Homo sapiens: one gene and its partner. The protein of the gene in region 2 purifies or fractionates together with the protein of the main gene of each other region. This does not show direct contact. Each region holds a gene or a part of one and is shown on either strand. Other genes may lie near its edges.

What was found. The genes of interacting proteins can lie anywhere in the genome.
Region 1: the proteins of FBXW11 (region 2) and TFAP4 purify together in Homo sapiens (affinity purification with mass spectrometry; 8 studies listed by BioGRID and IntAct, with this or other methods). This does not show direct contact.

Annotation. Positions count from the first base shown.
Region 1 is NC_000016.10:4,271,331-4,275,077, forward strand, and holds the start of TFAP4 (transcription factor AP-4), read right to left. Parts: upstream 1,694-3,747; 5' UTR 1,417-1,693; coding exon 1,328-1,416; intron 1-1,327.
Region 2 is NC_000005.10:171,873,980-171,877,726, forward strand, and holds part of FBXW11 (F-box/WD repeat-containing protein 11), read right to left. Parts: intron 2,556-3,747; coding exon 2,306-2,555; intron 1-2,305.

The sequences.
Region 1 (3,747 bases), on a different chromosome or scaffold from region 2:
GACTGCCTCGGGCGGCAGAGCACGTGGCTCCAGCCCTGGGGAGCCATTTCGCTCCTGGAGCAGCGCGGCAGGAAAGGGGCCACAGGTCCCAAACTTGCGCACGCCGTAGAACGCCCACCTCCCCCACACCACGCCCAGGGGGTCGTTCAAAATGCAGATGTCCGGGCCCCAGCGATCAGAGTTCCAGGCATGTGCATTTTAAGAAGTGTGCGGGGTGGTTTGGCTGTGTGTGGTCCTTGAGTCCATCACCCTTTGGGTTTAGAGCAACCTAGGACCAAAGCTTGCAAAGTGGCTTCTGGGGAGGCCTGCGGACCTCGGGCCACCCACCCGGCTGGGGGACCCGACGCTTTCGGTTTACGGCAGGGGGGAGGGGCGTTGGATGGGAAAGTTTGCAGAGGAAACCCACGTGCGGCGGGAAGCTGCCCTGCGAGGCTAGGGGCGGCCTCAGGTGTCCCTTCCCCAAATGGCCTGCCCACCTGGCCTGCCTTGCCCATCGTGCCCGCGGGGGCCGAGCTTTGTGCAGGGAAAGCGTGGCCCAGGAGCGCCTACAAATCCCACAATGCTGCACCAGCAGGACACGGAGAACTACAGCTCCCGCGAGGCCGCGCGCAGAGGTCCGCCTACTCCAAGAGGGCTGCAGAGTCACGTCCAGGCCTCGCTAGTAAACAGCGCCCGGGCGCGGGCGGGCGAGCGAGCGGCAGCCAACGTGCCCCGGGCCGCGGCGCCCCTACCGGCCGCGCGGGCCCCTCGGGGTCCGCCCACCCCCAACACCCACACGCGAGCACGCCCCCGACCCCGCTGCAGCCCCGCTCTGCAAACACGCACAGTGCCCGGCTCCCCGCCCCCACCCCGCGCCGGGAGCCGCGGCATGGCTGCATTGTAGCCGCCCTAGCTACACCCCCACGCGCGCCCCGGGCCCCCAGACCCCCTTGGATGGGGACGACCTCAGATCCCGAGGAAGGAAGGAGAGGAAGGAAGCCGCCGCAGGAGGGGGAAAGAGGAAGCGCGGGGGGGAAGGCCACCAGCACCAAGCATGGCCGGGACTGCTGCAGAACCACGTGGGTCTGTTTGCAATTTACAAACGTCGCGACTCGCCCGCCTGCAGCGGACAAAAGTGGCCGGGGCCGCTTGGGGCCCCCATGCTCCAAGGAAGGAGGGTCCCGGGGCGGCGCGGACCCGGCGTGTGGGGCTGCAGCCGTCCCGGCAGCTAAGAAAGGCTAGCGGGGTCGGCGGCGCGGGCCATGCGTGCGCACACGCGCGCCCGCCCGGGCGGGCTGGCCGGGGGCTGCAGTGGTAGGAAGGGGGTGGGGGGAGGAGGAGTACACACCTACAGAGCCCTCCTATCACTTCTTTCTCTGTTTTCCTGAAATGTTGCAAAGAGGGCACCTTCTGAGTGGGCACCATGAAATACTCCATAGCGATCGGCCCCCCTCCTCTGCACGAGCCAGGTCCCGCGATCAGCCGGAGAATGCAAGATGGAAATCCGAATCAAAGGGCAGCGCCGGACGGAGGTGCAGAATCGGCCGGTCCCAGATGCTGGCGGCGGCGGCGGCGGCGAGGGGAGGGAGGCGGGCGGGAGGGGCGGGAGGGAGGTCTCTCCGGCCTGCCTCCCCGGGCGTGTGTATGTGTGTGTGTGTGTGTGTGTGTGTGTGTGTGTGTGTGTGTGTGTGTGTTTGCAGCTGATCAGATGTCTGTTTCAAGGCGGGAAACAGCTGGTGAAAACTCAGCACTCCCCCGGCCTCCTTCCGCGGAGTAAGGAATTGCATGTAAACAAAGGACTATTTGCAGCGCCCCCCGGGCGGCGCGAGGCCGGGGCGAGAGGGGCGCGGGCCCCCGGGGACCGGCTGCAACCGGGGTCTGCAGGCCTCTCGCGGGGCGCAGGGGGCCGGGGGCCGCGGGCGGGCTTGCGGGGCGCGGCGTGAATGGAGCGAGCTGCGGCCGAGCTACATGCGCCACTATGGGTGATGAGGTCCATCAGCTGACAGGTTGGCAAGCGTTGCAAAAAAAAAAAAAAAAAGGCCAGCCACCGCGCAGGGAGCCCAGCCCGTGCAGCCCGGAGTCCAGCAGCGACTGGCCCAGAGCAGGGTCCGCGCGCTCGGCCGGCCCGCAGGGAGGAGGGGGCGCGGCTGGGTCGGGCGTGCAGCGGCAGCAAGGAAGGCGGCCTGGGGTTCGCGCTTGGGGCTTCTGCTTTTTCACCATTGCAGCTGCACGGAGCGGAGCCTCTCCGGTGTGCTCCCTTCGAGCCGAGCCCAGGGCCCCCTGGAAACTTGCGTCACAGCCACCGCTTCCCACATGTAACTCGGGGCTGACTTCGGAGGCCGGCCAGCTTCCTCCCTCCCGCCTTGCTTAGCTGGCCGCACGGCCGGGACTCCGGATCCTGGGAATCTTGGACCCGGCGACGGGACGGCAAAGGGCGCCTCGGATGCTGGGGCCGCCCTAGGAAGCCGGGGGCCCCGGCAGGGAGGGGAGGGTGGAGGCGGGCCTGAACGGCAGCGGCCCCCGGGCGCAGGCTGCCAGCGCTGCGGGGAGGTCTGCTGGTTGCTGCCGGGTCCCCTGCTATTCCCCCAGACCCGCACTGTTCCCTCCGCGGGCTGAAGGCTGCAGCTTCCCATTCATAACAAAGCCCGTGTGGGACTTGCCCCTCCGCCAGGATGCGCTCCCCAAGAGGGGGTGACGACTTGGGGCAGGGACGGGGACCCTGGCGGCGAGCTTCCGTCCTCCGCTCGCACGCCGCACCTTCCGGCCCCAGGCCCTCCCCTGGCTCCTGGAGGGTTGGCTCCTGGCTCAGGAAGCCCACGCCTGCCTTGGAATGTCCTGGATCCTGCCCACCGCCTTCCAGGTTCCGCCTAAATCGCGCCTCCTAATTTGACTTATTCCTACTAGTAACAATAGTTACTGTTATTATTGGGAAATATTGTTATTAGATGTTGCCAGCACCCGGTGGATGCCGAGCAGTTTTGCTTACACGCTCTCCAATCCTTGAAGCAACCTGTTAGGCAGTTTCTCTAAGGAGAGATCCCAGACCACTTGACCAAAAAAAAGTCTCTGGAAGGCTTACTATGTTTCTACTTAAAAAAAAAAAAAAAAAAAAAAAACTTTCGGCTGGGCGCGTTGGCTCACGCCTGTAATCTCAGCACTTTGGGAGGCTGAGGCGGGTGGATCACCTGAGGTCGGGAGTTCGAGACCAGCCTGACCAACATGGAGAAACCCCGTCTCTACTAAAAATGCAAAATTAGCCGGGGGCCTGGTGGCACATGCCTGTAATCTCAGCTACTCGGGAGGCTGAAGCAGGAGAATCGCTTGAACCCGGGAGGTGGAGGTTGCAGTGAGCCAAGATCATGTCATTGCACTCCAGCCTGGGCAACAAGAGTGAAACTCCGTCTCAAAAAAAAAAAAAAAAAAAAACCTTTTTACTGTTTTTCAACAAATAGAGATAGGAGTCTCACTGTGTTGCCCAGCCTGGTCTTGAACTCCTGGGACTCAAGGAATCCTACCTCTACCTCCCAAATTGCTGGGATTACAAGCATGAGCCATGGATGGCCCTGGTGGGAAGCCTATTTTTAACTGCCCTTAGTGAGCAAGCTATTCTTTTTTTTGTTTTGTTTTGTTTTGTTTTTTAAGACGGAGTCTTGCTTTGTCACCCAGGCTAGAGTGCAGTGGCACGATCTCGGCTCACTGCAACCTCCGCCTCCTGGGTTCAAGTGATTCTTCTGCCTCAGCCTCCCAAGTAGCTGTGGTTACAGGCAC
Region 2 (3,747 bases):
CACATAAGCACTGAAACTATACAAGTCTTGATAAATTGAACATCATCAAAATTAAAATCATTTGTGCATCAAAGGACACCATCAAAAAAGTGAAAAGACAACTCACAGAAAGGGAGAAAATATTTGCAAATCATGTATCTGATAAGGGACTTGTGCCCAGAATATATAAAGAACTTATAACTCAATAATAAAAAGGCAAATTACCAATTTTTAAAGTGGGCAAAAGATTTAAATAGACATTTCTCCAGAGAAGGTACACAAATGGCCAATAAGCATACAACAAGTTGTTTAGCATCATCAGTAACAAGGGAATGCAAAGCAAAACCACAGAGTACCACTGCACAATCACTAGGGCAGATATAATAAAAGAGACAAATAATAGGAAGTGTTGGCAAGGATATGGAGAAATCCTCCATGCTGATATTATGAAACAGCTATTTTGTAATAAAGCTCAAACCCTCTCAACTTCCAGGCACTGGTCTCATACCAATTGGTGTGACTGTGGGAGTAAGTTGCCGCATATAAATCCTAGTTGTTTAGCTTCCCAGCTATCCAATGCAAAGCCTGATGCTACACACTTCGTGATTTGTGGGGCTAGGTATAAGAGTGCTATCCAGTGCTGGTTATGAAAAGGAGGTTCTTCTGAGCAAGCTGAAACCCTCATATACCACTGGCAGGATTGTAAAATGGTACAGCGCCTTTGGAAAACAGTTTGGCAGTTCCTCAAAATGCTAAACACAAGCCTGGGTGACAAAGTGAGACCTGGTCTCTACAAAAAAAAAAAAAAAAAAAAAAAAAGGGCCGGGCCTGGTAGTGCCTGTACTCCCAGCTACTCCGGGAGGCTTAGGTGGGAGCCTCAGGAGTCCCTGAGCTGGGGGACTGCTTGAGCCCAGGAGGTCAAGGCTGAAGCGAACCATGACTGTGTTACTGCACTCCAGCCTGGGTGACAGAGTGAGACCCTGTCTTCAAAAGGAAAAAAAAGCTAAACACAGAGTTACCATCCTAAGAAAATTAAAAACATGAAAACTTCTACACTAATATTTATAACAGCATCATTTGTAATAGTCAAAAAAATAGAAACAACTAAAATGTCCATCAACTAATAAACAGATGAACAATGAAATTTTATTCAGCCACTGGAAGCAACAAAGTACTGGCTGGGTGTGGTGGCTCATGCCTGTAATCCCAACACTTTGGGAGGCCAAGGACTGCTTGAGCACAGGAGTCCAAGACTAGTCTGGGCAATAAAGCAAGACCCCATCTGTACTTTTAAAAAAAAAAAAAAAAAAAAGAAGGGACAAAGCTGATGATACATGCTACAAAGCACATGGATGAACCTTGAAAACATTATGCTAAGTGAAAGCAGCGAGAAATAAAAGGCCACATAAGGTATTCTTCCAATTATATGAAGTGTTTAGAATAGTCCAATCCCAAGACAGAAGGTAGATGAGTGATCACCAGGGACTGGGAAGAAACACAGGCTGACTGCTAATGAGTGTGAGGGTTTTAGAGCGCGATGAAAATGTTCTGGAACTAGACAATGGTAATGTTATAGAATGCTGCAAATGTACTAAAGGCCACGGAATTACACCCTTTAAAATGTTCAATCTTATGGCATGGAAACTATATCTCGGTAAAGATGTTATAAAAGCATAGGAAAGCTAAAATTCAAAAAAGTTAGCTGAGATATTGGAATCAGGACTGCATTTACCATATCCTAGGGAATCACCCTAGACTTCAACTCCTTGTTACAAGTCTGCCTCCCCCTTCACCGCATGCTAAGCTTCTTGAAGGCAAGGACATGTCTTCTTCATCATCATATCCCTAGCATCCGGCCCAGAGTCCACCGCACTGCGAGTCCTCAAAATTAGGTGAATAAATAAAACATCTAAGCTCTGCCACTAACTAGCTGTGATGATCACCAACACAATCCTTTACTCTCTGAGCCAGATGTGTAAAATGGGGCCACACCTACCTTAAAAGTGCTGAGTGTTAACTGAGACCATAATGTAAAGCTCCCAACACACAATACATGATCAACACGTTAGCACTCTTCCCCTTAAAAAGGTGATCAAGAATTTCATGTCATGAAACAGAAGACTGTTCTCTCTTCTGGACCGATGGCTTTTCCTCCTACCTTGCCTACAACTCTACAGATATACAGAGTGGGATGGCCTCAAGGGTTCATAAGCACAGAGGAGAATAAAGATCTTGCCAGGTACCAGGTTGGTATAAGCCACCTCTGCTTTGTCTCTGTTCTAAAAGGGACAGGAACAGGTAGGGTTATGACTGCAGACATACTTACTTTGATGGTCCTGTCACCAGAGGCAGACACGATGTACTTGTCGTCAAAGTCTACTACATTGACGGCAGCCCGGTGGCCAACCAGGACACGGCGTAAAGTGATGTCGGTCGCAGAAGCCATGTCCCACACAGCAATGGAGCGGTCCTTGGAACAGGTCACCATCAGTCCATTGCTGAAGCGTAAGTGCAATACAGCCTCATTGTGGTGGATCAATGTGTTAAGAACTTCACCCGTGTTCACATCCCACACTCTAGGAGAGAAGAGAAAAGCATGATGCTTAATTATGGAGACAGCCAGGAAATGATTCTGGTATCTGAGCTCTGTCTGGGTCTGCAATGGTTTGGATATAGTTTGTCTGACTCTACCAAATCTCATGTTGAAATTGATCCTCAATGTTGGAGGTGGGGCCTGGCAGGAGATGTTTTGGGTCATGGTGGTGTATCACTCATGAATGGCTTGGTGCCATTCTCATAGGAGGGAGTTCACTCTTAGTTCCTGAGAGAACAGGTTGTTGAAAAGAGCCTCCTAGCACCTCCTCCCTCTCTCTTGCTTCTCTCTCACATGTGATCTGCACATGCTGGCTCCCCTTTGCCTTCTGCCATGAGTAGAAGTAGCTCGAAGCCCTCATCAGAAGTAGATGCTGGTGCCATGCTTCTTGCAGAGCCTGCAGAACCATGAGTCAAATACACCCCTTTTCTTTATAAATTACCCAGCCTCGGGTATTCCTTTATAGCAATACAAATGGAGTAAGACAGGGTCTATTCTTAATGAACCTAAGGACATGATTAAAAGGGGCCCCTAAAAGCAATTTCTTTATTTGCTGAGAAGTGCTGAGATGGTTTCAGAAAAGGTGGCTAATTCTGGCTCTGCCTGAGTTTAGGTATATTTAGCAGTCAGGTATTTAGGGACGGTGTTTGCAGGCTCGTGCTGATGGCAAAAGATGATTCCTCTAGATAGTAGATTTTGTATTGAGTCTGAGATGACAGGAAGAAGGAGGCTTGTTGGCTGAAGAACTGAGAATGGTTCCAAGCTTAGTTCTTGTTGACCTCTGACAGGCCTCTGAGTCTATCAGTTATCCACTGCAAACTGGGTAAGTCATGATGCCTCATCAATCACCGCATCCACTTCTTTACCCAGCTGCTTTATGGACAAAGCCAGGGTCTCCCAACTGCTTTGTAGATCCAGGGATCTGGAAGCAGCATTTCCACATCACGGCTTTTCTGTAACCCTCATCTCCTAAGAGGACAAGTTCACATAGGGCAGAGGGGGAAAGACTCAGGCCTCTGAGGCTGAGACATGATCTCTGGCAGAAGCAGGGGTACGGAAGCACTGAGTCCAGGAGAGGATACTAAGCATGCTTCAAGCAGGGGTGGCGATGCTTCCAGCAGGGGTGGCGAAAGAGTCCAGGAGTGACTCCTGGAAGTGAGTGTCTCCTCTCTGCT